Regions from separate parts of the Homo sapiens genome. Here all the other regions are linked to region 3. The links come from fine-mapping of genetic effects on gene expression. A gene starts in region 3. Each other region holds a variant in brackets. All regions are shown on one strand. Distances are between the middles of the regions.

Region 1 (4,065 bases), 410 kb after region 3:
AGGTCAGGCCATTCTATTGCCCTCCTGCTGCTGGGTCTTTAATCCTGAGATGGCTTCAGGGGCTGGTCCTTCTCCATGGCCCCCTCCACATATCTCAGGTTTGTGCTCAAAAGTCACCTCTTGGAGGGGTCTCTCCCTGTCACTGTGTTTGGAACAGCTCCTTTGGTTTCTTTCTAGCTCATCTCACTCTGGTAATGTCTTTCATTACCACCACCATCTGAGCTGGTCTTATGACCTGTTAGCTTCCTTCATCAAACATGAGCACTAGGATGACAGGGACCTCATCTGTTCTGTTCCTCCTGTGGCCTGGGTCCTAGCACCATGTCTGGTACAGTGTAGATGCTCAAGGGAAGTTTACTTTATAGAACTGTCTACCTGGGAGATGTTGCTGTTAGTCTAACCTGTACCATTTTGTAATCCTGCAGCCATTTTGCAAACCCTGGTCAGAATGAAACATTCCTTGGGAACTCGGGCCATGAGAAGCATCCTTCCTGACCACCTGACTGCGGAAACATCCTTATCGCATCCTCCCGGGCGAAGGCCCAACAGCCTGACTGCAGGAACATCCTTGCCATATCCTGCCGGGCAGCAAGCTCTACCGCCCAGACCCCTCCTTCCCAGTCCCATGATCGCCCCAGCCTGTGAGCGGCAGTTGGTGATGGCACTAAGCTGATTTCCTCCTCTGCAGGGTTTTGCTAGTAATAAAGGTGTTGCTGTTGAAGCCACCAACCATGTCTCTCTGTCTTTCTTTAACCCTAGCCTTGCCTTCAAAACCTAACAATAACTCTACCTCTCCATTTTACCAAGGATTATATGAGACTCAAGGAGAGCAAGAGACTTACCCAGAATTACAGAGCCAGTGAGTCACAGAGCCTGAACTTGAGCTCAGTTCAGCTGAATCCAGAACTCGTGTCTTCCTGAGAGTCCAGGGAAGGAAAGGTGGAACTGCAGCCAGTGGGTGCCCACATGCTTGTCCTAGGAGACCCCAGGTAGCCTCCTGGGAATTGTGTCCTCATGGGCACGAAAGAAGAACTGCTCACCTGTGCTGCATCAGCTAAGTGTCCCCATTGTCCCAAATTGTTATATTGTTTCAAAGTTTTGTTTTAATAACTAAATTTCTCACAGCTCAGTGTTCAAAACAAAGCACAGAGGCATGTAGAAAGTCGTGTGGGTTTTTCTCATTTTCTTCCCAGTGACTACAAATGAATGTACAAAAGAACACAAATACACTCATACTTTTATATAGAGATGAGGCCCTCCCACTCATATTCCTCTGCCACTAGCCTTCCTTTTTTTTTTTTTTTTTTTTCCCACGGGAGGACCACTTCTCCATGTCTAGTCCATGTCATTTGGGAAGGCTGACCCACCCTGGGCAATCAGCAGGGTAATTCATTCAGGAGTGGGCATGTGATCCAAGCTGGGCTCATGGAAGTCATCCCTGAACTTTTGATGAAACTGCTGGGAATGAGGTGCTTTCTTTTTATTGGCATAGCTATTTGCAAGGAAGTAAGTGATGTGAACTTTATGGGGCCATTTTTGCTGCTGTCTCAAAACAGCCACTAGAAAAGCAGAGCTGACACAGGAAATGAAGGGACAGAATGAGCCTTGGTTGATATTAGTTGACCCCTGATCCCGTTGAGCCAGAAGCCCATCTACTCATGGACATTTTAAGTAAGTAGAGCCAAATAGTTCAATGTTCTGCTGGATCAAGTTAGGTGTCAGTCACTTGCGGTCAAGAGAGTCCTGCATAATAGCACTTTCTCTGATGCTTAGGTCCCACCTGCCAGAGCTTTAGAGCTGTAGAAGGGTAAAGTGAACCCAGGCAGTGCTGAGCTAGCCAGTCTCCTGGCTAAGTGTGCAAAGGAACCCTGGAGTCACTACCACTTTGGTCTCACAAATAGCCTTGCCTGCTGCTTACCATACAGCCACAGGCGTATTGCTTCCCTGAGTCCTTAGGCATTATACCTGTTTTTGAAAATGATTTTTATTTAAGAAAATGTTTTGTGGAGATGGTGTCTTGCTATGTTGCCCAGGCTTGTCTTGAACTCCTGGCCTAAAGTGCCGAGATTATAGGCATGAGCCACTTTGCTTGGCCAGCACTGTACTTCTATTAGTTATCAGTGCTTTTTTGTTCTGTAGTTTCTAGTGTGTGCTTGAGTGTGTGTGTGTGAGTTTATGTGTGTGTGTGTTTATGTGTGTG[AGTGT/T]GTGTGTGTTTATGTGTGTGTTTATGTGTGTGTGTGTGTTTGTGTATGTGTGTGTGTTTATGTGTGAGTTTGTGTATGTGTGTGAGTTTATGTGTGTGTATGTGTTTGTGTGTGTTTATATGTGTTTGTGAGTTTATGTGTGTGTGTTTGTGTGTGTGTATGTGTGTTTATATGTGTGTTTGAGTTTATATGTGTGTGTGTTTGTGTGTGAGTGTGTGTTTATGTGTGTGTTTGTGTGAGTGTGTTTGTGTGAGTTTATATGTGTGCGTGTGAGTTTATGTGTGTGAGTATATGTGTGTGAGTGTGTGTGTTTGTGTGTGAGTTTTTATATGTGTGTGTGTGAGTTTTTACTTTCATCTTGCAGGGTTATTGCAAGCATCAAGTGGGATCCTGTAGGCACAGCACTCAGTCCAGTGACTGGCACATACAGTGAGCTCTCTCTGTTCTCCTGGTTCAGAGAATTACTTAAGGATCTGTGATGTGTGCCAATTTTCAATGCCCTGGATACATAATGGGGAGTACTGTTGCCGTAACTTTGCACTAGTTTTAATTCATTTTATCTGTTTAGCATGAGATACCTCAAAGTCACTGAATAAATTTGTCACACACAAACACACACACACACATATATATATACACACACACACAAGTATGTTTCTTCAGAGCTGACAAGCTTATTTTTTATTCCCTGATGCTGCAGTAGAGGCCACTGTGTTCTGATTTTTTGAGTGATGGCTGCCAGCTCTCCAAGTGTCACAGTCGGTGAGGCATCCATGGGGGCGAGTGCCAAAGATGAGTGTGGCCAGTCAGCATCTGCAAGCCCATTTTGTCTATTCTCTTTATAATATGTTTTATTCATTTTTTAGGTTTATCATTTAATCTGTTATAAACATCTCTCCTAAAATGTTTCTTAGTTCTACTAGGGGTTAGTTTCATGAAATAAGTCCAGAAATAGTCCAGGGCAGCCAGGGATACCCTACATGCCATTGGGGAGGGAGAAATCTTGTAGATTGAAGGTTTTGTTGTAGGGACAATCGTTCCAATTGTCTTCAAGTTGCTAAACCCAACTCAGGGCACTTCATCTTATTTGAAGAGAGCAGCAAGCAGAGAGAGCAAAGGGAACTTGGTTAAGAGAAAAGAAGAACAATAACTCTCCCCTTTCCAAACAGATTTTCAGAAATCCAAAGCAGTGAATTCTGCATTTCACATTGGCCAGGACTATAAGCTCTGCTCACTACAGTTATGAGAAAAACTGGGAAACTCATTTAAAGACATAAGCCAGGGCCAGGCATGGTGGCTCATGCCTGTAATTCCAGCAATTTGGGAGGCCAAGGTGGGAGAATCACTTGAGCACAGGAATTTGAAACCAGTCCAGGTAACATAACGAGACCCAGTCTCTACAAAAACAAAACAAAACAAAAGCTGGGTGCGGTGGTGCACACCTGTTATGCCTGCAGTCCTACCTACTCAGGAGTCTGAGCTGGGAGATCACATGAGGAGTTCAAGGCTGCATGAGCTTTGATTATGCCACTGCACTCCAGCCTGGGAGACAGAGTGAGACCATTTTTCAAAAAATTATAAATTAAATAATAAAATGTGGATAAACACATAAATACATTTAAACAGTGCTCCTTGGAAAAAGTGAATCTATGTTCCCTTAGTGAAGAAGATGAGAATAACGGATATAGCAGGGAAATGGACAGCATTGGCCACATTAGACCAAAATGAAAGTCATAACAGGTACCCCAAATCAGTACCATTAAAACCACATAATGTGACCATAATGCAGTCAAATTGTGACCAACAAAAACAAACTGACAAAAAAGGTATCATGGAGCATACGAATTCTAAATCTAAATTG
Region 2 (4,065 bases), 280 kb after region 3:
ATAGAAAAGTGCAGAGAGTTCACATATGCTCCCCTACAATGCCCCCGCCCAGTCTTCCCGACTCTTAACATCTTGCGTTACTGTGCTACATTTATTAGATTTGATGAACTGATACTTATATCTGAAGTTCATAGTTTACATTAGGGTTCACTCTGTGTTTCATAAATTTTTGGATTTGACAAATGTATAATGTCATGTACCCACCATTACAGTATTATGTAGAACAATTTCATTGCCCTAAAAATCTCCTGTGCTCCACTGATTCGTTCCTCCTCCTCCTCTTTCTCCTACCCCCGGTCATTACTGATCTTTTCACTCTCTCTAATTTTGCCTCTCCCAGAATGTCATGTAATAGATCATGTAGTATGTATCCTTTTCAGACTGGCTTCTTTCACCTAGCAGTATACATTTAGGGTTCTTCTGTGTTTTTTTCATGGCTTGATAGCTTATTTTTCAAATTGCTGAATAATATTCCATTTGTTTGCATGTATTGCAGTTTGTTTATCCATTCTTGAATTATCCATCTCTAATTGGGTTGTTTCGTCTTTTTATTTACTGAATTGTAATTCTTCCATATGTATTCTAGATACAAATCCCTTGTGTTCATCAGGGTTGCAGGATACAAGATCAATATACAAAAATCAATAGTATTTGACACACTTTAACTGAGTACTACATACTCACAATGAGCAATCAGAAAATGAAATTAAGAAAGCAACTTCATTTATCATAGCATCAACAAGAATAAAATACTTACTAATAAATTTAAGAAGTGTAAAACTTGTACTCTGAAAACTATAAAACATTGTCGAAAGAAGTGAAAGAAGATCTAAATAAATGTAAAAGTATCCCATGATCATGGACCGAAGGCTTAACATTTAAGATGGCAGTCCTCCGTAAACTCATCTACAGATTTAACTTCATCCCTGTCAGAATCCCAGATGAGTTCTTTGTAAAATCGACAAGCTGACTCTCAAATTCATATGGAATTGTAAGGGACTGAGAATAGCCAAAATAATCTTTTGAAAATGAGGAACAGTGTAGGAGAACTCATACTTACTGACTTTATAACTTACTACAAGACAATGGTAATAAGGACAATATAATACTGGCAGAAGGGTAGATGTATAGACCAGTGGGATAGAATTGACAGTCAGATATGAACCCATACATATATAACCAACTGATTTTTGACAGGGGTGCCAAGATTATTCAGTGGGGAAAGAAGTTTGAAAACTGGCCCAGGGACAACTAGATATGTAAACATATGCAAAACCTGGAGTAGGACCTTTACCCAACACCATGTACAAAAACGATGCAAAAAAAAAAATGGATCAAATGGATCCATTTTGAGTGAATCCACATAAATGTAAGGACTAAAACTATAAAATCCTGAGAAGCAAACAGGAGTAAGTTGTCATGACCTTGGATTTGGCAAAGTTTTCTTAAATATGAGACCAGCAACAAGAATAAAAATTGATGAATTGGACTTCATCAAAATTAAACATTTTTGCACTTCAAAGGACACCATCAAGAAACTGAAAAGACAACCCACAAGATGGAAGAAAATACTTGCAAATCATGTATAGCACTTTTTGATGGTAAACTTGAGGAAGACTTTTTTTTTTATTTTTTATTTTTATTATACTTTAAGTTCTAGGGTACATGGGCACAATGTGCAGGTTTGTTACATATGTATACATGTGCCATGTTGGTGTGCTGCACTCATTAACTCATCATTTACATTAGGAATATTTCCTAATGCTATCCCTCCCCCCTCCCCCCACCCCATGACAGGCCCCGGTGTGTGATGTTCCCCTTCCTGTGTCCACGTGTTCTCATTGTTCAGTTCCCACCTATGAGTGAGAACATGGTGGTGTTTGGTTTTCTGTCCTTGCGATAGTTTGCTCAGAATGATGGTTTCCAGCTTCATCCATGTCCCTACAAAGGACATGAACTCATCCTTTTTTATGGCTGCATAGTATTCCATGGTGTATATGTGCCACATTTTCTGAATCCAGTCTATCATTGATGGACATTTGGGTTGGTTCCAAGTCTTTGCTATTGTGAATAGAGCTGCAATAAACATACGTGTGCATGTGTCTTTATAGCAACATGATTTATAATCCTTTGGGTATATACCCAGTAATGGGATGGCTGGG[T/G]CAAATATTTCTAGTTCTAGATCCTTGAGGTATTGCCACGCTGGAGGAAGACATTTATTTTTTATCTCTTACCAACACAGCAGTAACATCCTAAAATCTCTCTTCCTGTCTCTTTTTGCCATTCTTTAAATCTTTTCTCACTTAATTTTCAGATTTAATATTTAATACATGGCAACACTCCCTGTAGTCCCAGCTATGGGGGGGAGACTGAGGCAAGAGGATGGCTTGAGCCCAGGAGATGGAGGTTAGATTAGAAAGCAGGGATAATGAGATCAATCAAAGCGGTCCTCAGGACACTAGTCACAGTGTTTGTACTAATACTGGAACTGGTTTATTTTCAGGCATTTCTAGTGTGATCAGATGGCAAAGAACAAGTATATATATGTGTGTGTGTGTATATGTGTGTGTGTGTGTGTGTGTGTGTGTGTGTGTATGTCAGTTTCCAGGACTGCTGGGCAAGCCTGGGAAAGACAGTACCTGGGGAAAGCAGCCTCCTGCTCCCCTGTGCCTTCTTTGAGCTTGATGATCATTTGATGTGGTACTATATAATCACATCCAGGTTACCCTCTGAAATTCCTTGATGGTTCTTTTCTATATCCTTGACACTGTCCTTTTACAGACCAAGTGATCTTATCTGGAATATTACAACAGTTTTCTTTTCTCAGTGCTTTTAGAATAACCTGTCAAAAACTCATCTGACTATAGTAGTACCTGCTTACAACCTTTTACTTAGTCCCCATTTCCTACCGGGCTGTGTAGCTCACTTGAGCTCTGCTAGGTGGTGAGGGAATCTGGGTCCTCTTTCTGGTATTTGAATTCAGTGCTACACAGGTTACTGGCTGGGTTGACAATCTCAAATTGTAAATCATGAGTATTCTATGTAGATAGTCTGTCACGATTTACAATAGAACATTGACATTTATGTAAAAGATCATGGTGATGTGAGGTTGCGTACTGTCTGTGAGAATTAATTGAGGAAATTTAAATTATATGGTTTTATTCACATATAGTGCATAACAACTAGTTAAGGGATAGATGTCTTCTTATCTGACTTTCAAGTATCTAAGAGTGGATCATTGTGCTTGTTAAAGTTCTGGGAACCATGGCTATTTTCTGAAAATACCTCAGTGATGACAAATAAATGACTACCAGCCTCTCGTAACATTAGGACTCCAGTTCATCCCTTTGCTTCATAAGTGTGTCTTTTCCTTTTGTATGTATTTGCATTAGTATAGAAAATAGGTTTTCTTGATTAGAAATCTAAGAAGAATAAATTGAAAACTGGAGATTTTTCTATTGCTTTGGATTACTAAAAGTTAGTGTAATTTGGCAGTATATCCTTGTGCCATTATTGTCTCTCTGGTAAGTAGATGGTAGGGCTTTGGGTGATTAAAATTTTTTCCTATTTTGCTTATTTAATGGGCATGTGTTTGTATTAAAAAGGGGAAAATAAATAGGAAGGTAGAAGATGTTAACTAATCGTGAAAGTTATTGGGAAGGGTTACCTAATTTAAAAGTTGGCCAGCCATGGCAACACTGCCTGTAGTCCCAGCTGTGGGGGGAGGCTGAGGCAAGAGGATGGCTTGAGCCCAGGGGATGGAGGTTACAGTGAGCTGTGATTGTGCCACTGCACTTCAGCCTGAGGGACAGAGCCGGACCCTGTCTCAGAAAAACCTAGAACAACAACAAACAGAGAGAGGAGCCTGGACGTATTGAGCTACGTTAGTGTTCGCGGGCTGCTGTAGTGATGGCTTACAACATCAGAAATTTATTCTCTTACAGTTCTGGAGGCCACAAGTCCAAAATCAAGGTGTGGGCAGAAATGCGCTCCCTCTGCAGACTCTTGGGGAGGATCCTTGCTTCTTCCAGGTCTGCGACTGTGGTTCCTGCAGCCACTGGAACC
Region 3 (4,065 bases):
TCGGAGCACCGAAGATGGAAAAGCTCCTATATCAGCCATGGTTCCCAGACAATGTCCCCCTGCGTGGAAAAGGGCTTGCTTGCTGCGCCATCCTGGCCATCTGTGCCACTGGAAGTGCTGGCAGAAAAGTGAAACAGAGACTGCAAAAGCAGGAAAGGAGAATGGTCTCTTTGCCTTGATTTCGTGTTATTTTGTCTTTGCCTTGATTTTGTAAGTTATTTTGTCCTGAACTCCTAAATAGGGTTGATAAACCAATCTCTCTGTCCTCACAAGTGGCCCTTCTCTGGCTGAGGACTGCCTCCAGAAAACCACCGTTTTAATACTCAGACTGTGTCTTAGGCATTGGCGCTGCTATAACAGAGTGTCTTAAACTGGGGAATTTGTAAACAACACAAATTTGTTGTTCACAGTTCTGGATGCTGGGAAATGCAATATCAACGTGCCAGCCAGTTCAGGGGCTGGTGAGGGTACGTTTCTCATAGATGGCACCTTCTGTGTCCTCACATGGCAGGAGGAGCAAAGGGGGCTTAAGGCCCGTTTTTATTTTTATTTATTTATTTAATTTATTTTTTGAGACGGAGTCTTGCTCTGTCGCCCAGGCTGGAGTGCAGTGGCACGATCTTGGCTCACAACCTCTGCCTCCCGGGTTCAAGCAATTCTCCTGTCTCAGCCTCCTGAGTAGCTAGGATTACAGGCGTGCACCACCACGCCCAGCTAATTTTTAAATATATTTTTGGTAGAGACAGGGTTTCACCATGTTGGCCAGGCTGGTCTCAAACTTCTGACCTCAAGTGATCCGCCCGCCTTGGCCTCCCAAAGTGCTGGGATTACAGATGTGAGCCACCACGACCGGTCTAAGGGCTGTTTTTAAAGGGCACTAATCTCATTCATGAGGGCAGAGTCTTCCAAAGGCTCCACTTCTTAATACTATCACCTTGGGAGTTAGGTTTCAACATATGAATTTGAGGGGGACACATACATTCAGACCATAGCAGGCCGTTTTTCCATTTCTTTTGGGTCCTAAATGATATTTGTTTCTGGAGTAGGAGGGCGTTCAAAGTCCTCTTTTGTTCTTCAGCACCCTTCGCTGAATTCAGGGGCAGATGGAGAAAGGCAAGAGGCACGGGGCAGCCTGTAGAAGCAGTATCTAGCACTGAGTCCCCAGTATCCCCTAGGCACGCCAGGAGAGCCTCCTGGAAATCCTCACTCAGCAGATCCAGGGTAGGAACGCGGCTTCTGTTGAATAGCCTTACATCGAGATATGCAGGTTGGGGGCGGTGGCTCACACCTGTAATCACAGCACTTTGGGAGGCTGAGGCGGGAGGATCATCTGAGGTCAGAATTCGAGACCAGCGTGGCTAACATAGTGAAACCCCGTCTCCACTAAAAATACAACAAATTAGCTGGGCGTGGTGGCGGGAACCTGTAATCCCAGCTCCTACGGAGGCTGAGACACGAGAATTACTTGTACCCAGAAGACAGGTTGCGGTGAGCCGAGAGCGCGCCCCTGCACTCCCACCTGGGCGACAGAGTGAGGCTGTCTCCCCCCTCCCCCCAAAAAACGAGAGAGATATGAGGCTCAGCTACCAAAGTCACGCGCGAGAAGGGAAATGCTTGTAGGTCCCTGCCCTTGGGGGAGAGCGGAGTGAAAACCGGCGCGTGGCCGGCGAGCACGGCCCCTCCCAGCGGAGGTCCTACAGGCGCCCGCGAGCCCCGCCTCTCCAGCTTCGCCGCGCCAGCACCCCGCCACCGGCGCTGGCTCTGAAGGGCCCCGGCGGCGGCCGCGTCTGCGCAAGCTCGGGACGGCCTCGGGAGGCGGGGCTGGCGCGGGGCGGACGCGGGGGCTGGCGCGGGGCGGACGCGGGGGCTGGCGCGGGGCGGACGCGGGGGCTGGCGCGGGGTGGCGGGCGGGGGCTGGCGCGGGGTGGCGGGCGGGGGCTGGCGCGGGGTGGCGGGCGGGGGCTGGCGCGGGGTGGCGGGCGGGGCCTGGTCCTGTGAGCGTTCGGAGACTGCGGGCGCGCAGACCTGTACTGGGCCCGCGCCCCGGCCCCTTACAGAGCTGGGTGTGTCCCTCCGAGTGCCCCCCGCTAGGGACTGTGCAGGCCGGAGCTAGGCAGGGACAGCGGGGCGAACCGGGCTGATAGAGTCGGTCCCTGCTCCTGTGAGGCTCTCACCGAATCCCTGCTGTTTCCGGGCAGCTGAAGAGCGCTGGGCCCTCGCGTCGCGGGCGTGGCTGTGGCCGTGTCTCCTGGTAGTCTGAGCCCACTGTGCGTGTGGATCCACGTGGGAGCTGGGTTCCAGAGCCTGGTCCTGAGGAGGAGCCGAGCCGGGGGTAGGAGGCCGGACTTGGCGAGGGAAGAGCACGACCCCGGGCAGCAGTGCGCCGCGCTGGGCGCACCGGGGTTTGCCGGCCCTGCTCTGGGCCCTGCAGGTCCGCTGGCCCCGCCGCGCCTAGTGGGGATGCCCCGTGTCCCCCAGGCAGCCCCAGCCTGCGTCCCGCTCCCTGAACCCTCGGGAGGACCACAGGGCTGTGGCCGAAAGACAGAGATTTGGACCTAGTGAAAGGACGCCGCTCCTTAGCCCCAGCTATGGACTCCACAGCATCAGGTTTGGCTCTGGAGCGTGCAGAGGGCCAGGAGCCCTCTTGGGGAGCTAGTACCGAGCCCGATATCAGGAGGACCCCAGGAAGAGGCCGGGGAATCCCACTGAAGGGTGAGGCTGTACTTCATCTGCCTTCCGTGTGGCGACATCTAACCTTCCAGACCCAGAAGGCTGAAGCCGCAGTCTCCTGGGTCTGGCAGGGGTCTCTAGATGACCGTGGCGGAGGTGGAGGGGATGGCCATGGAAAATTGTCCCAATGGCCAGAGGAGAGCAGAAGAGGATCTGATCTCTTCCTGCTGCGGCAGGGAGAGGGCAAGCAAACCCAAGAGGGAGTGGCCCTTGGCCAGGGATCAGAGGACGATAGGGCCATTTGGAGCCTTGTCATCCACCTCCTTAATCACCTCACTAATAAGGTTCTTCCAGTCGTTCTAGCTCAGCGGTGTATAAGGTCAGCAGTGTACATGGTGGGTATCTCCTCTGAGCCCCTTCCCCCAATAGCGTTGGGGGCAGGGCAATCCAGGTGACCCAGGAGGTTTTAAGCCAGTCCTAAGTTTAGAACGTCCTATCTCTAACCAGGTGGGCATTTTAATCCGACTGTTCATCCTTCAGTGCACATGCTCAAGGACACATAACTGGCCAGTGGAAGAACTGGGCCCAGTCCGTGGGCTTCCCACCCCCTCTTTTTTCCTTTATACCCTTGTTAATCAGTGTGGCTCTGGGAACAGCAGAGGCATTGCCCAGAAGTTCTCTAGAATTGCAGACTCTGGGGCCCCACACATCCTCAAACAGTGTCTTAGCAAGTCTTGAGCCAGAGTTTAACAAGATCCTCAGGGATCCACACACACATGAAGCTTGAGGAATGCCTAACTGTGCTATGCTTACACCCATGTTGTTAGCCTTAACTACTTCTCTGGCATGGTTTGGGTTAGTTTTTTTGTTTGTTTTAAGGCTTTTATGAACAGTATGATGCAAAGCTTTATAATGAAGGAGCTCTCAAGTGTGTTGCAGAGACCTAACAGAGCTTGGGAACACCAGGGGCAGCTTCTCAGAAAGAGGTGGCCTCTGAGCTGGGTTCCCAAGGATGAGGGGAGAGGTGTAACTTCCTCCCCTTAAAGCCTCATAATCCTGCATGGCCTTGCCTTGGGTCTTGTGTAATTGTTAACCTGTAGGCTAGATTTAAAGTTCCTTGAAGTTCTTTTCCATATTTATATTTCCAAAAGTCCTAGGAGATGACCTGCATACAGTATGCCCAGTAAATAACTTCAGTGGTATGGCCAGACTGGTCACACTTCACTCACTTGTAGACTGATGTGGGCTGTGGACAGGTGGGAGCCTCATGCAGCTGTGTACAGGGGCACTTCTCTCAATGTTTGAAGGCTAGAAGCTGCCTCTCAGATCCTTTTGATCCACTGGTGTCCTCAGAACAACGGAGGTGACATTCAGAGCTGTTCTGGGTCTCAGGCT
Region 4 (4,065 bases), 160 kb before region 3:
CATGTAGCCACAGCATTCCCCTCTCTTTTGAAAAACTGGAAGGCCCAGGAACCCTGGGCTCTCCGAGTCCCCACTCAGAGCCACCAAACTTGCCACCTGGGGCTAGACTGAGCCCCCGGCTCCACCAGCCTCCGCACAGCAGGGTCCGCCTTCCTCCTGCAGACTCTGTGCTGCTCTACCGCTCTCCAAGCCCCTGTTATTCTACTTGTTTGGGGATGCGTGAGTGTATGCTCAATCTTACATTTGCATGCTTCTCAAAATGTCATGCATGAATTTGACAGGTATTTTATGTGCCAGGCTCTGTGCAAGGCACTCAGGACAGGGCAGGGACAAGATTGGGGGATGAGCCCCTGGTCCCTGGAGATGCTGTGGCAGCCCAGCCCTGCCGGCGGCTGCAGGTGACCTCTCAGCATGGGGGCAGCATCTTCTGGCAGCATAGGCAGCTTGTGGCACCAGGTCCTGGGATGTACATGTCACATGTCTACACCAGCTCATCTTTGTTTTAGGGACATCATTTTATCTCTCTTTGGAAATCACTTGACTTCTTTAGCCTACTCTCCTCCGCGTCCCCACAGCACTTGCTCAGCACTCCAAGCTGCTGATGCTCACTCCTTTCAGGGTCTGAAGCTCCTGATATCAACCCTTCCCAGCAAATGCCAGGTCCCCCCATGCAGGGCACCACCCCTGTGCCTGCTTCGTAGCCCCGTGGCCGAGACTTGGTCTTGGTCCTGCTCAGCCCCGGGTGCAGGCAGAGGAGGGAGAGCCTGGAGTGGAACTGGCTGGCTGTGGATCACCCACCTCCCGGTTCCCCACAGGCCTGGGCCCACAAGTACCGACTCAGGGAGTCCCCTACATCCCTGCCAAGGCCTCCAGGTTGCTTAGGTTTCATAGGTTTTGGGAGGTGGCTGTCATTAACTGAGCACTTTCTGTATAGAGGTCTTAATACACACCTGCCCATTTTTGTTAATCCTCATCACAGACACCACTTCTGCCTTTGATGGAAGAGGAGAGGGTTTCCAGTGAGGGAAGGAGACGGGGAGGGCCTGGGCGGTCGAGTCAGTGTGCACAGGAGGAGGACTGGCCTGAGAGCCACCCCACTCTCTCCCAGCCCAGGCTTGTCCTGAGTCTGTGTACCCCATGGAGAAGCCAGCGGCTCCCCATCTGCTCTCCCTCCCTGGGCCCATGAGTGGGGGATCCCAGGCTTGGCATTCACTGTCCCCAGGTCACAGTGGGGAGGGGTGGGCTGCAAAGACTGCAGTCCTTCCTGGTCCTGCTCCCAGGGCCACTGCCCACCCCTGCCCCCTGTCACCCCTACCCCAGATAAGGCAGGCCCAATCCTTGACCCGGCCCAAAGCTGTCCCTTCTGTAGCCCCATCCCAGCCCCACCAAAGCAACCCTCACCTCCAGCCAGGTTCCCAGAGATGAAGCGGAAGAAGACGCTGATGATGCCTCCCAGGTGCTTCCCACAGCCATGCTGGCACTCCTGCAGCCTCGGGCCAGGGCCGCACCCTGCCATCCTTGGGCCTGGCTTAATCCGCCCGACTCCTGCCCTCAGCTCTGCCCTGCCTGCCACTGTGCAGGCGGTACCCCCACAAGCCTGCTCCCTGACCTCCTCTGCCAGCCTCTCCTCAGCCTGACACTCAACACCTTTCTTTTTCTAGGACTCCCCACTCCTGGTCTGTCTGTCTGTCTCTGTCTCTCAAAAGCAGCGTCTCTCCTCTTGGTCTCAGCTTGTCCCCAGTGTCTTGGGCGCTCTGGGCCTGTCCTTCTCTCCTCTGCTTTCTGTCCCTGCTTCTGGCTCTCCCAGCCTTTCCGGGGACTGCCTGCCCCTCAGCCCAGAGCCCCGGGGCAGCCAGAGTGCACTCAGTCCTCCTGCCTTGGGTTTGCCTTCTCAGGTAG[C/T]CCCTGCCCCTGCCACAGGGCTGGCCCCTTCACCTGGTGCCTGGCCTCAGCCTCCAGGCCCCCGGAGCTCACTGTTCCTGGAGGCAGAAGGGCCCCTGCGGCTTCCTGGGCTGGGAGGCGTGGGGATGGGGTGGGCGTCACTCCTGAGCTCCCAGCACCAACAGAGGAGGTGACACTGGTGTGATTATCAGCTGAGGGTGTGATCTCACTGCAGAGGGGCCTCACCCGGGCCCCAGGGCTTCTCTGCAGCCAGACAGGGAACAGCCTGCTCTCACACAGTCCCCTGCCTAGGAGGCTCAGGGCCAGGGGCCCTGAGTAGGACGGGGGCATAGGTAGGGCCCTAGCCTTAGGCTGTCTCTTGACCTCTGACCTCTATCCACTGGCCTCATCCCTCAGCCCTGCTGTGCCTCTCTAAAATGCAGAAGGGGAAGTGGGAAGCGGTTCCTCTGCTGAGGAGCAGAAGGGAGAGCCAAATTCATGACTGGAGCTGACCAACCCCCTGCCCTCCACATTTTTGAGCACTTAGCAATAAATAAAGGCGATAACAGCCAGGCAGCTTGCTAAGGTCTTTCTGGGTGCCAGTGAGTGCCTTCAGTCATCAAAACAACCCTGCAAGCCACATGTGGCTGAGAATGCCAGTTCTGTATTCATTCTTCCTGAGTTTCACCAGCAGGGTTCAGATGCTGTTGGAGATGGAAATGCGCCCAGCTGAAAACTCCACCATTCCCCTGCCTTCCTCGCAGTGAGGGCAGCTTATCTCTGGCCAGTGGAATGGAAGCATCTGTCTTCCAGAGACTTCTGTGAGTGCTGCCTTCCTGACATGGGGACCACCACTCTCCGCTTCCACCTGGGTTCTCCTTCCTGTTGCCTGAAATGAGGCTGTGTGGGCTGCAAAGCAACCACATTGCCACAGTGAGGGGAACGGTAGAAGAACCCAAGACATTGACACTGACGTCCCCCAGCTGCCAAACTAGTGCCAGCCACCGCCTCACCCCATGTTTCCCATATAGGAGCCGATGCACCTGTCTTGATCAAGCCACTGTTATTTGGGGTTTCTGTTATATGCAAGTTCAGGCAAGCCAAGGGATCCCTTGCAGAGGGAAAGACGAGCTGCTGCGCCTCGCACCCCTGCCAGTAAAGGAAGGTGCGGTGCCCGGCGGGCCTCCTGTGCACCACAGTTAAATGTGCGGCTCAGAGGCTGTTCCGCAGGTGCAGGCCAAGTACAAGCAGTGCTGCCCCTTGGGCCTAATGACCCAGAACATTCAATGACACACGATGAGTCTAAGGCAAGTTGGAATGCTCTACGGGGCCATGGCAGGCCCCCAGAGGGGAAATCTGTGGTCTCTTGGGTTTTGAGCAATGCCAAAAATCTCTCCTGTTGGCATTCAGCTAACTTCCCACTGCTGGGCTGCTGTGGGGGTGGAGCGCCTGATGGTGAGAGAGACAGAGACAGAGAGACAGAGTAGGTGGCCATGAGCCCCGAAACACCCAACAGCAATCGAGTATCAACCTCTCGCCCAGCCCCACTGGTATCTGCATGTGCACACAGTGCTCTGTCGTCATGCCCAGGTGCTGTGGATGGGGCCCGAGGCAGGGCAGGTCTGGAGGGCGCAGGGAGGCTGTACCTGCGGGGGCTGCGACTCCCACAGTACCTGCTGCATTGCCGCTTTCCCCACAGCCCACCCGCCCCCTACGGTCTCGAAGCCGTCTGAGGAGGAAAAACTTTCGGAGGTGACTTATAGACAGAGCTGCAAGAAATGTTGGCCCCAACTCTAGGTGACACTGAGGCCCACCTAGGGGAAGGACGTGGAGAAGGGACATCTTCCTGGTACATGTGTTGCCCACATTGTCTGAAGAAGAGAGGGCCGAAGGCACAGGTTTACACTGATTCATGGATGGCTGTTAACCATTAGTTCAGGGGTCAGGGAGGTGGAGGGGCAGGATCGGGGGAGTAAGGGCTGGGAGGCCTGGGGAGGAACCACCCGGAGTGTGGGACAGCAAGTGCTTCACAAGTGCCCTCCAAGGGGCGCTGGGGCCGAGGAGGCACTGGACGATCAGGTGGGCCAGTGGTCCCCTCTGTGCACCTCACAGCCTCTGTTCCTGGCTCCTCTGGCATTTGCTTGAGAACGAAACACCGTAGATTCAATAAAAGAACTTCTCCCTGGG
Region 5 (4,065 bases), 71 kb after region 3:
GAGTGGGCTGTGTTTCACCCGGTTTCTCCTTTTCTAGGTTACGGCCTCCGCTGCCACAGGGCCATCATCACCATCTGCCGGCTCATTGGCATCAAAGACATGTATGCCAAGGTCTCTGGGTCCATTAATATGCTCAGCCTCACCCAGGGCCTCTTCCGTGGGCTCTCCAGACAGGTAATCCTTTCCCGGGGTCTGAAACAGAGGTTCTAGTTTGTATTTCAGTTGTGTGTGTTGGGGCTACGATGCCCTGGGGCCTCCTGGAGATGCTTTCCTGGGGCCACCTGAGGAGTTGGGCATTCTTTGTTGTCTGTGACTGCATCAGTTTAGTTAAATCCATTGACAAGTTCATGAAAATTACCTTTTTTTTTTTTTTTTTTTTTTTTGAGACGGAGTCTCGCTCTGTCACCCAGGCTGGAGTGCAGTGGCGGGATCCCGGCTCACTGCAAGCTCCGCCTCCCGGGTTCACGCCATTCTCCTGCCTCAGCCTCCCAAGTAGCTGGGACTACAGGCGCCCGCCACTACGCCCGGCTAATTTTTTGTATTTTTAGTAGAGACGGGGTTTCACCGTTTTAGCCGGGATGGTCTCGATCTCCTGACCTCGTGATCCGCCCGCCTCGGCCTCCCAAAGTGCTGGGATTACAGGTGTGAGCCACCGCGCCCGGCCTGAAAATTACCTTTTAAAAAGTACTTCATGGGTTTTTCTAAGCAGCATTTTTAAAGCCAATAATTACAATCTACATGTTATTATGAAAATAACACCTGCTTGTTCTAAAGCTCCAACAGTATAGAAAAGTAAAATCAAAAGAGAAAGTTCATTTCCTAATTTAGTCCTTTCAGTTGGGGCTAGGATGAAGCACCCAGGGCACCTCTGCACACAGGGCAGGCACAGTCAGTTCCCTGTTACCTGTGTAGGTGGTTCGGACTGATGCCTGGGTTGGTAGGGAACTATGAACATTAACATATCAGGTTACTTTTCCTCATAGGTGGGAGCCCTGGGCCCGGCTCCCAATCACCCACCATGGAGGGCAGGGCTGTGACTGCACCGGGCCCCCATTCTTGGGCAGCTCCCCTACCTGCCCAGGAGGGCTGGCCTGTCTCTTGAAAGGATGGGTAGACCTTAGCATAGGTGGATGAACAGAAAAGACAACCAGGTTCAATAGGCTCCATTTGCTGAACTCTGTTAGCTGAGGACTTTGGCAGGCTTCCTGACATTTCAGGAGTACAGTGGTGGGTTTTAGGTAAAGTGATCCATGGAGTAATTTTACATGTCTCTGTTTAAAGTAGGAAAATTAAAAGAAAAAGAAGGCTTTGGGTAAAAGCCTTCTGTTTTCTGAACAGCTTTTGTGTGTGTTACTGTCTAAAACACCCTTCAGAGCACTTGTAAATTGAAACATTAGAGGTTTAATTAAGATGTTGATTTTAGATAGGTTGTATTTATGATCCAGTAGACTTGTTCTGTTTTTGGTTTTTGGTTTGTTTGTTTTTGCTTTTTGAGACAGAGTCTTGCTCTGTCACCAAGGCTTGGAGTGCAGTGGCTCCATCTCAGCTCACTGCAACCTCCGCCTCACGGGTTCAAGCGATTCTCCTGCCTCAGCCTCCTGAGTAGCTGGGACTACAGGCACGTGCCACCATGCC[C/T]GGCTAATTTTTGTATTTTTAATAGAGATGGGGTTTCACCATGTTGGTCAGGCTGGTCTTGAACTCCTGACCTCGTGATCCACCCGCCTTGGCCTCCCAAAGTGCTGGGATTACAGGCGTGAGCCACCGCGCCCAGCCTAGACTTGTTCTTTTATGTGATATCTTTGTTTTCTTTTAGTCTTTTAAACCTTCTGATATAGTTACCATATGTCATCTCTCCTAAAATGCCATCAGCTATAAAAGGTTGCATTATTTAATATGTCACTCAAAAAGGAAAAGATGCCACCACTTTAGGTGATATGCCTTTGATTGAAAGATACACCAATATAAATTATTTTGTTTATGAAATGGCTCATCTGTTTTCTAATTTCACACATACTGCAGGGCATTAGATATATAATTAGAATAGTGCAAGGCAGCCATAAGGCCTGGGATCACGGGATTGACATAGCAGGTATGTCATTGTACCATGAATAACGTCTACTGAACTAATCTGCCTGCTTCCAGATCTCTGTGGCTTCCCTCTGCAGTGAATCCCCATGGCCCTGTTACCCAGCTCATGACCAGTCTTGCTTCTTAGTACACCCCCAGTTATTTTGAACCAAATCTCAGACATTTTATTTCAACCCTAAATATTTTAGTATGTATCTTCGAAAAGATGAGGATTTTAAAAAATACCCTGTAATACTATTATCATACCTAAAAAGTTAACAGTAACTTGTATCATCAAATATCCAATCAATGTTCATACAAATGAGCAAATTCCATTTGTTAGATTAAAAAAAATTTTTTTTTTTTTTACACAATGTGTTTGAATCAGGTTGCAGAACAGGTTAATGTATGTTTTTGCTATGCCTTTTAAATAGGTTCCCCTCCTCTTCCCCCACCCCCGCCCCGCTTATGATTTTTTGTTGAGGAAACCAGGTTGTTTGTTTTGTAGTGCTTCCTGGCCTGTTGCTGACTAAAATACCTGTAGGGTCCTTAGTGTCTTATCTCCCCTATATTTACTGTAAATTGGTAGTTAGATCTAGGGGGTTGGTGAGATTCAAGTTCAGTGTTTGGCACAGCATGGTGCATAATCAGGAGGGTTTAGAAGGCAAGAGACCAGAGGCCAAGGCCCTTCCTCTATCCAAGTTTGGGGTGGGCAGATGCAGCAGATGAGGCTGAAATGACTCCACCCATGACAGGTTATTAGAGTTTAGCCACAAAACACATTAACCCAAATCCACTGAAATGGCCTTTGAATACCCCCAGGCTGTACTGTTGTGGCCTGTGGAAGTTCCTGCTCTTTATGTTGCAAATGTACTTCAGACCTAACCTGTTCTGAATTTGGTCTTGCTTAGGAAACCCATCAACAGCTGGCTGATAAGAAGGGCCTCCATGTTGTGGAAATCCGGGAGGAATGTGGCCCTCTGCCCATTGTGGTTGCGTCCCCCCGGGGGCCCTTGAGGAAGGATCCAGAGCCAGAAGATGAGGTTCCAGACGTCAAACTGGACTGGGAAGATGTGAAGACTGCACAGGGAATGAAGCGCTCTGTGTGGTCTAATTTGAAGAGAGCCGCCACGTAACCTCTCTGGCCTTGTGCAGCCAGTTCCTGTGCTGCCCTGCACCTAGGAGAGACTCAGCCCCTCACAGCTTGGGATGTTACCTTGCCTTTTGTTTGTTTTGAGGGAAGTTTAATCTTTAAACTCTTTGGAAATAAATAATTATAGCTTTCATTTGTTGAGCACATGTTATATGCCAATGTGATAGAACCTTTACATACATATCTCAGTTCAAGACTACTTTAAATATTCATCCAAAGTAACAAAAGTAAATGAATTAGGGAGACGGGGTTAATAATTTGACCCAATCAGTAATAATGTACACAATGATAATTGCTGTAGTAATTATAGCTAATATATATGAACTCATTCATCCAAAGTGAATGTGATTAACTTCATTTTACAGAGCAGTTAAGTAACTTGACTACCGTGAGGAACTTCCAAACCGTTTTCCACAGTGGAAATGGAAGTTGTAGGCTACTATTGGGAATGTTAAATGGTATATTAATTGTATACCATTGCAATTTTGACTTGTATTTCCCTGATGGCTGATGATGTTGAACATCTTTTCATGTGCTGATTGGCCATTTGTATATGTTTTTTGGAGAAATGTCTATTCAGAGCCTTTGCCCATTTAAAAAGTTATTTTTTATTATTATTGAGTTCCTTATAGTTTCTAGATATAAGCCCCCCTATCATACATGCTTTACAGAAGTTTTTACCCATTCTGTGGAATATATATATTTTTATTTCTTTGCATACTCTTTCTGCCCCACCCACATCCTCTTTCTGGGACACTGATGACCAAAATGTTGAATCTTTTACTATTGTCCCGTGAGTCCCTGAGGCGCTGTTTATTTTTTTTCCAGTCTGTTTTCTCTGTGTT
Region 6 (4,065 bases), 140 kb before region 3:
TGGCTTCGTATGTGCCACCAGGGCCCCTGGGTGTGGGCTCAGAGGGCACGGCTAGTTGGGGGCAGGGCAGGAGATCGAAGGCAGGTGGATGTGATTTCCAGCAGCCGAGGACAGTGGGAGGGGTCTGTGGCCAACCAGTTACATGAATCCCGCACCCTCGCTTCCCAGCTCGGTGACCCTGACAGAGAACCTGACAGCTCCGAGCCTCAGTTTACTCATCTGCAAAATGGGGGTGACAATGTGCCCTCACAGGGTTAAGGGGAAGGCAAGGTGACAAAGCCCCCAGTGGGGGAGAGTCAGTGTTCCTCGCCCTTCTGATCCCAGGGAGGGTCTGGCTGTCCAAACCCACAGCCTAGCATGCCTGGCAGGGAGGCCCAATGTGCCGCTCTCAGCTGCCACATGCCAGAATCACGTGGGGAGGCTCTCACCATCTGCCTGCCCAGGAGCTGGATTGTTTGATGCAGAGAGGGCTGGGCTACTCTGTTCTTATAAAGCTCCTCAATAGATCTGAAAATGCAGCTTGGGGAATTTGTTTAGAGTGTCTGTCCCTCCAGATAGAAAATTCTTGGCCTTGCCTGAAAGGCAAAGGGGGTCCCCCGATTCTCACCCCCTTCCTTTCCGGAAGGGCTTCACCGAGGCCAGGGCCAGCATGAGACATCCAGGCTACTCAGATGTGGGGCTCCCCACCCCCCACCCTGTCCACGGCTGCTGCGGTGCAGACTGGCCCACCCAGCACTGCTTGCTGTCACTGGCTCTATTTCCATCACTCGGGACAGATGGCAGGAAGCAGTGGTGGGCGTTGTGTCGTGCAGGCCCCAGGGTATGGAATGGGGAAGCTTTGGGGAGCCTGGATTCTCCACCCACCCCTGGGCACAGACAGACATAGGCAAGGCAGCTCGCCTTGTCGGGGGAGCCGAGGTTGTCATGAGTCCCTGAAGATGCATGTGTGCACATATGCACATACACACACACGTACACATGCCTGCAAACACACCTATGAGCGCGCACACACACACACACACACACACAGCCCTGGGCCCCAGCCCTCTGGCAGCACTGGAGCAGGAGAGCTGGGCTGTCCACCCCTGCTCTGATGGCTGCCACCTTGACAAGGACAAGCTCCCCATGCTGCCTGGCAGTGAGGGTGTCACGTTAACCCAGGGGTGAACTTGAGTTGCCCATGGCCAAATTGCCTCTTGGTGGCCTTCCCAGGCTCTCCTCAACAGTCAGAAGGGATGGCATAGGTATTCCCTTCATGTGTGGAGGCCTCACTCTGTGCCAGGGGCCAGGCCAAGCTGGTTGGTATAGGATCACATTTATCTGGGGGTTCTGTGATATTCATACTTCCCCCAGGAAAATGAGGACACAGTGGCACAGATGAGCTAAGTAACCTGTCAGAGGACACACAGCCAGTGTGTGACAGGGCCTGGACTGAGCCCAGGTCTGCTGGTGCAGTCAGGGCTCACAGCCAACAAGGCACAGCCATGATGCCTCTTGGCCATGCCTGTCTCCTGCCCGGGGTCCTTTAGTCCCGCACAGTGAGGATCAGGGCTCTGCGCAAGACCCATGGACATTTGTGTGCACATGTGGGGCACTGCTGGCAGTGGCCCTGACTTGAGTCAGCCAGGCCCGTGCCTCCCAGCCCTGCACTGCTCATCACAAGGCCTGGCAGATGCTGTGAGCATCTCTCAGACCCAGATGGGAAGACTGAGGCCCTGAGTCAGTGGGGCAGAGGTGGGGCTACAGTTTGGTTCTCTGGAGCACTGTCCAGAGTGCCCATCTTGAGAGAGGATCCCACGACAGAGCTGGGCACAGGGGCATGTGGCACCAGCAGCAGAGGACTGGGATGCAGGGGACTTGTCCCTTGCCTACCCTGGCATCTGCCTACTGTCCATGTGATAAAGGCTGGGGAAGGCTGGGGGCGTTGGGCAGGCTGGGAGGTGAGGCCAGAAAAGACCAGCAGCTGCTTTTCCTGGCTGAGCCTGGCCCAGGCATGGCCAGGCTGATGGAGAGGGCATGCTGGGCAGAGAGCTGAGGTGGCAGGTCAGAGGGGGAGGCTGGGCCGACTCTAGTGTGGGACACGCCACCCCCACGCTGCCCTCCCGTCTCAGCTCAGCTGCTCCCTCTCCAACTCTGCAGGTCCCCTTGCTTCTTTCCCTGCCACAGGGCTGCTCTTTGGCCTTCTAAGGCATGGGCTGATCTCAGATGACAGACGCACCTGCTCAAAGGCAACATCAGTCAGCTGAGGCCGGGAGCCCTGGGCAGGAAGCAGCACGGGACTCGCCCCATGCTGTGCCCTCCCCCGACTCTCAGGCTCCTGCCTGCCCCAGGTCTGGGCACTAGGCCAGAAAGAC[G/A]TGCTAACTTCTCTCCCCTCTTCTGCTTCACCTTGGAAACTGAGAGTGCTTTCTTCCGTGCAGAAGCCACATTGGCTGCTCCTGGAAGTCACTGGGATGCCCAGGGGTGGGCTGGGGAGGGCAGGGGGGCTCTAAGGCCCCTCTGCTAAGTCAGTAAAGCAGTTCCCTGCCTCACACAGAAGGTCTTGATAAGACAAGGCAGCCTGAATTTAAAATGTTGGGGTCCTTTACTTCCTAGCTCTGGATCCACAGTCCAAAAATGGGAGGCAGCTAGCTCCAGGTCACGTGGCTAACGCAGGGGATGCGGCCAGGTGGAGTCTGGCTTGTGTGCACTCACTGGAGGGCTCAGAGGGCACAACAGACCACCGGCCGCACGGCTGGGATGGGCCCCTCCTCTGCCATCTGGTTAAAGGCATGCCCTTCTCCTCCTGCGTCTTCTTCCGCAACCCCCAAGCCCTAGGGACTTGCTGCGCTCTGGAGTAAGACAGAGCAGGGTTCAAATCTCAGCCACAACTCTTGTAGCCTGCAGTCTGGGGCAGGCCTCTGTTTCCCCATCTGTGAAGTGGGGATGATACCAACAGCTGCCTTGTGGGCTGCGTGAGGGTCCAGGGAGATAATGCGGGAGACAATGTCCTAGATGGGCGTTGGTACCCTCAGGCTTCTGGCTCTCAGCTCTGCCCTTCTCCTGGGCTCTACCTGGAGGGCTGAGGCAGAGCCCCTTTCTTCCCAGTGCAGCCTGGGGTCTTTTGAAATGTGGGAGCAAATTAGGGCCCATCTCGCACAGTGCCCTGCAACAAGGCTGGAAGCCAGGCAAAAGGGGTTCCCAGTGCACGGGCTGAGCTGTGAAGACACCACAGCCTCAACACCGCGACAGCAGCGCCTGTCGCAGAAACTGCGGGTCTTTCGCTCCTTTCTCCTAAGAGCTCATGGGATCAAGCTCATGGAGTCCTGGAGCTGTTCCAGTTTTCTGAGCCTCAGTGTCTAGAATAGGAATGGCAGTGCCTCCCCGCCTCCCCATAGGAGTGAGGTGAGAATTCATGAATGGCTGGGGAGTAGGCTAGGGAGCCGGGCAGTCATGGGGCGTTACTGGGGGACAGCCACTGACCGTGACCCTGAGGAGTCAGAACACCTCCCAACCTGAGCTCTGACTACAGTCCCTGCTGCCACAAGAGAGGAAGGTTATTTTTCACAATCTCCCATTGATCTTGATGAGAAACCTAATGGTGGCTTCTCCTAGGACCACTGTCTCTGCTGGGCCCAGCACCAGGAGGTGTGGGTCCCACTCCCCTCCCTGGCCAGGCCAGCCACAGGAAGGCCACCAGCAGACATAAGGACAGTGAGACCCACTGGGGCCCAGGAGCTGGTTGTGGGAGGGTAGAGCGCAGTGTGGGGTCACAATGGCCAAGGGAAGAACCAGATGTAAGTGCAGGACTCAGGCCACCCACTCTGCCAGTCTGGCAGGGGCAGGAGTGGCCAAGCTCCCAGAGTGACCTTTGGCAGTTAAGGCCCGCAGAGGAAAGGCAAAGGAGGGGAGGACTGTCTTCTGCTGGAGGTCAGAGCTGGCTGTGTGCACATCTGTGTGCAGCCTGACTCTGGAAATTCCCATCTCTGTAGTCATGCAGGGTCGCTCAATGTGTCTCTGCCTATGGGCACGGTTGCACTGTGCACCCTGACGCCGTAGTGTGTGAGCCTGGGGCAAGGCGCTACGTTT
Region 7 (4,065 bases), 33 kb before region 3:
GATGTTTATTTTCTTACTAAAGTTTCTAGTTGTATAAGTGCATTTGATTTTTGGCTCAAGTTCTCAGGTATTCATTCGTTTAGAAAATGCATGATGAGGCCGGGCACGGTGGTTCACGCCTATAATCCCAGCACTTTGGGAGGCTGAGGCGGGTGGATCATGAGGTCAGGAGTTTGAGACCAGCCTGGCCAATATGGTGAAACCTCATCTCTAGTAAAAACACAAAAGTTAACCAGGCGTGATGGTGGGCGCCTGTAGTCCCAGCTACTCAGGAGGCTGAGACAGGGAGAATCTCTTGAACCCAGGAGGGGGAGGTTGCAGTGAGTTGAGATCGCGCCACTGCACTCCAGCCTGGGCGACAGAGCAAGACTCCAACTCAAAAAAAAAAAAAAAGAAAGAAAGAAAGAAAATACGTGATGAGTGCCAGGCCCCACACTGGGAACACAGCAATGCACAGATATGAAGGAGTTCTTGCTCTCCTGCAGCATTCAGCCTTGCGATAAATAAATACATAATATGTCTGTTCCCTATCTTAGGGTCTCCTTCAAACACCTGCAAAGCATATTGATTGGAGAGCTTCTGACCAATTTGGGGATCCTCCAGGCATCATCTCAAATTTGAGATATCCCAATGAAGTGTATGGGATGGTTAATTGAGACTATTTATTAAGACTGTGGTACCAAATGGAGGCATAAGGATAAGCAGTTGTGTAGGGACCAGCCCCACAGGGTCGGTGGGTCTCTCCCTGTGTGCTGCGACGAGAGAGTGTAGAAATAAAGACACAAGACAAAGAGATAAGAGAAAAGGCAGCTGGGCCCGGGGGACCACTACCACCAATGCGCGGAGACCGGTAGTGGCCCCGAATGTCGGGCTGCGCTGTTATTTATTGGATACAAGGCAGAAGGGGCAGGGTAAAGAATGTGAGTCACCTCCAATGATAGGTAAGGTCACGTGGGTCACGTGTCCACTGGATAGGGGGCCCTTCCCTGCCTGGCAGCCGAGGCAGACAGGGAGAGGAGACAAAGAGAAAGACAGCTTACACCATTATTTCTGCATATCAGGGACTATTAGTATTTTCACTAATTGACTACTGCTATCTGGAAGGCAGAGCCAGGTGTACAGGATGGAACATGAAGGTGGACTAGGAGCGTGACCACTGAAGCACAGCATCACAGGGAGACGGTTAGGCCTCTGGATAACTGCGGGCGAGACTGACTGATGTCAGGCCCTCCACAAGAGGTGGAGGAGCAGAGTCTTCTCTAAACTCCCCCAGGGAAAGGGAGACGCCCCCCCCCCCCCCACCTTTCCCGGTCTGCTAAGTAGCGGGTGTTGTTTCTTGACACCTTTTGCTACTGCTGGACCATGATCCGCTTGGTGACGGGCGTCTTCCCAGACGCTGGCGTCACCGCTAGACTAAGGAGCCCTCTGGTGGCCCTGTCCGGGCATAACAGAAGGCTCGCACTCTCGTCTTCTGGTCACTTCTCACTATGTCCCCTCAGCTCCTATCTCTGTATGGCCTGGTTTTTCCTAGGCTATGATTATTGAGTGAGGATTATCATAATATTGGAATAAAAAGTAATTGCTACCAACTAATGATTAATGATACTCATATATAATCATATCTAAGATCTATATCTGGTATAACAATTCTTGTTTTATATTTTATTATACTGGAACAGCTCGTGTCTTCTGTCTCTTGCCTCGGTGCCTGGGTGGCTTGCCACCCACACAGTTGATAGAAGGTGCTCAAACATAAATCGTCATTACCTTGAACAAAAACATGCTAAGTCTCTCTGGGGACTGCTTGTCTGGCTGAAGCACCTCCATGGTACCCCGAAGCCTGTTTGGCATAAACATCACTGATGTTGGATGATAGAGGACTTGCGACTGAGAACTTTCCCACACATGCTGCACTCGTGGAGCTTCTCTCCAGGGTGCAC[T/C]CTCTGATGGTGAATGAGCCATCTTTTCTGGAGGAAGGATTTCCTACATTCAATGCATTCATAGGGCTTGTCTCCACTATGAATTTTCTGTTGCTGATTAAGGGACGAGCCATAAAGAAAACCTTCCCACCCTCATTATCTTCGGGATGCATCTCTACAGTGTGCACTGTCCTGTGTCGAATGAGGGATGAATGGTCCAACATGAAGGGGTGGCCTGCCCCTCCACACCTGTGGGTATTTCTAGTCGGGTGGGACAAGAGACTGAGAAAAGAAATAAGACACAGAGACAAAGTATAGAGAAACAATAGTGGGCCCAGGGGACCGGCACTCAGTACACCAAGGACCTGCACCGGCACCGGCCTCTGAGTTCCCTTAGTTTTTACTGATTATTATTTTCATTATTTCAGCAAAAAGGAATGTAGTAGGAGAGCAGGGTGATAATAAGGAGAAGGTCAACAGAAAACATGTGAGCAAAAGTATCTATATCATAATTAAGTTCAAGGGAAATTACTATGCCTGGACGTGCACGTAGGCCAGATTTATGTTTCTCTCCACCCAAACATCTCAGTGGAGTAAAGAATAACAAGGCAGTATTACTGTAAACATGTCTTGCCTCCCGTCACAGGGCAGCTTTTCTCCTATCTCAGAGTTGAACAAATGTACAATCGGGTTTTACACCGAGACATTCAGTTCCCAGGGGCAGGCAGGAGACAGTGGCCTTCCTCCATCTCACCTGCAAGAGGCTTTCCTCTTTTACTAATTCACCTCAGCACAGACCCTTTACGGGTGTCAGGCTGGGGGACAGTCAGGTCTTTCTCATCCCACGAGGCCATATTTCAGACTATCACATGGGGAGAAACCTTGGACAATACCCCGCTTTCAAGGGCAGAGGTCCCTGCGGCTTTCCACAGTGCATTGTGCCCCTGGTTTATTGAGACTAGAGAATGGCGATGACCTTTACCAAGTATACTGCTTGTAAACATTTTGTTAACAAGGCACGTCCTGCACAGCCCTAGGTCCCTTACACCTTGATTTTATACAACACATGTTTTTGTGAGCTCCAAGTTGGGTCAAAGTTGCTGGGTCAAAGTGGCTGGGGCAAAGCTACAAATTAACAACATCTCAGCAAAGCAACTGTTTAAAGTACAGGTCTTTTTCAAAATGGAGTCTCTTATGTCTTTCCTTTCTACGTAGACACAGTGACAGTCTGATCTCTCTTTCTTTTCCCTACACAACAGAGCTCTACCCTACCCCTGCATTCCTAGGGCCACTCTCCAGGGCGGGTTTGCTGTGGCCAGTCAGAATAACTTTCCCACTGAAGGATTCCCCACACTCTGTGCATTCATAAGGACTTTCTCCAGTATGAGTTCACTGATGCCCAGTAAGGGTTAATCAGTTGTAGAAAGTTTTCATTGCATTCAAAGGGGCTCTTCCCAGTGTGTGACATCAGGTGTTTCTTTTTTCGATTTTAACTAATGTTATAGAGACAAGGTCTCACTATGTTGCTCAAGCTGGTCTCAAACTCGTAGGCGCAAGTGATCCTCCCAAATTCTGGGATTACAGGCATGAACCACTGGCTGACATCAGGTTTTTCTTAAGACTCCTACAGCTAAAGGCTTTTCTGCATTCCTGACAGTCATGGGGCTTTCCTCCACTGTGAGTCCTCTGATGGTGGGTGACGACTACGTGGTTATATGGGGTCTTCCCATACATGCTGCATTCAAAGTTCCTCCCCTTACTGTTAGTTTTCTTGGCAAGAGTAGATCTTTGCCTCAGTCCTTCTCCTTGGGCGCAGATTTCTTCAGCGTTTCCCTGAATGGTTTTTCTTCTTTCTGCGCTCAGGCTTTTCAGGGATAAGTGCAGGACCCAGTGGAAAATCTTTTCAGAGTTTTTCATTAATGTATTTAGTGATTTTATTTTTTTAGAAACATCCTGCCTTTGAGTGGAGTCCTGGCTCTTAGATCTAGTCTTCTGGTCTAAAATAAATAGCAAATAGAGATCAAAGCTTTGAGTGCTAGTTAAGAAGAAAGTATTGTATGTGTTAAGAACAAATACAAAATACTGGCTGATTGATTGGTAGCTCCTTAAAAGAAAAACAACAGGGACAGAGTGAAAAATAGCAAAG

Evidence for each region. PIP is the estimated chance that this variant, and not a neighbour inherited with it, causes the effect. A credible set is the group of variants that fine-mapping cannot tell apart.
Region 1: its variant is the best candidate, but not a certain one, in a credible set for the expression of ZNF514 in skeletal muscle (FUSION, PIP 0.83).
Region 2: its variant is the best candidate, but not a certain one, in a credible set for the expression of ZNF514 in whole blood (TOPMed, PIP 0.79).
Region 4: its variant is the best candidate, but not a certain one, in a credible set for the expression of ZNF514 in blood mononuclear cells (TOPMed, PIP 0.85).
Region 5: its variant is the best candidate, but not a certain one, in a credible set for the expression of ZNF514 in whole blood (TOPMed, PIP 0.80).
Region 6: its variant is the best candidate, but not a certain one, in a credible set for the expression of ZNF514 in whole blood (TOPMed, PIP 0.83).
Region 7: its variant is the best candidate, but not a certain one, in a credible set for the expression of ZNF514 in lung (GTEx, PIP 0.72).

What each region holds. Positions count from the first base shown.
Region 1 is chr2:94,751,990-94,756,054 of GRCh38, reverse strand. FAM95A (family with sequence similarity 95 member A) reads left to right here. Exons shown (of 3, transcript NR_038409.1): 2 at 1-98; 3 at 426-729. Among named protein-coding and RNA genes, the nearest start is that of FAM95A, 7.2 kb to the left of the region's middle. The variant AGTGT/T (reference allele first, on the strand shown) is at 2,201.
Region 2 is chr2:94,881,318-94,885,382 of GRCh38, reverse strand. It overlaps LOC442028 (a long non-coding RNA gene), which reads left to right. Exons shown (of 10, transcript NR_037597.1): 8 at 3,945-4,065. Among named protein-coding and RNA genes, the nearest start is that of TEKT4, 12 kb to the right of the region's middle. The variant T/G (reference allele first, on the strand shown) is at 2,163.
Region 3 is chr2:95,157,507-95,161,571 of GRCh38, reverse strand. It overlaps ZNF514 (zinc finger protein 514), which reads left to right and starts at 1,724. Exons shown (of 5, transcript NM_032788.3): 1 at 1,724-2,332. RefSeq lists a silencer at 1,648-1,897.
Region 4 is chr2:95,315,297-95,319,361 of GRCh38, reverse strand. All of the region lies in intron 2 of KCNIP3 (potassium voltage-gated channel interacting protein 3), which reads right to left. Among named protein-coding and RNA genes, the nearest start is that of KCNIP3, 20 kb to the right of the region's middle. RefSeq lists enhancers at 230-731, 3,124-3,624. The variant C/T (reference allele first, on the strand shown) is at 1,900.
Region 5 is chr2:95,086,495-95,090,559 of GRCh38, reverse strand. It overlaps MRPS5 (mitochondrial ribosomal protein S5), which reads left to right. Exons shown (of 12, transcript NM_031902.5): 11 at 38-174; 12 at 2,979-4,065. The coding sequence ends at 3,203. Among named protein-coding and RNA genes, the nearest start is that of MRPS5, 33 kb to the left of the region's middle. RefSeq lists an enhancer at 2,542-3,107. The variant C/T (reference allele first, on the strand shown) is at 1,636.
Region 6 is chr2:95,298,817-95,302,881 of GRCh38, reverse strand. All of the region lies in intron 1 of KCNIP3 (potassium voltage-gated channel interacting protein 3), which reads right to left. Among named protein-coding and RNA genes, the nearest start is that of KCNIP3, 3.5 kb to the right of the region's middle. RefSeq lists an enhancer at 3,902-4,065. The variant G/A (reference allele first, on the strand shown) is at 2,355.
Region 7 is chr2:95,190,447-95,194,511 of GRCh38, reverse strand. It overlaps the pseudogene LOC100287523. Among named protein-coding and RNA genes, the nearest start is that of ZNF892, 15 kb to the left of the region's middle. The variant T/C (reference allele first, on the strand shown) is at 1,941.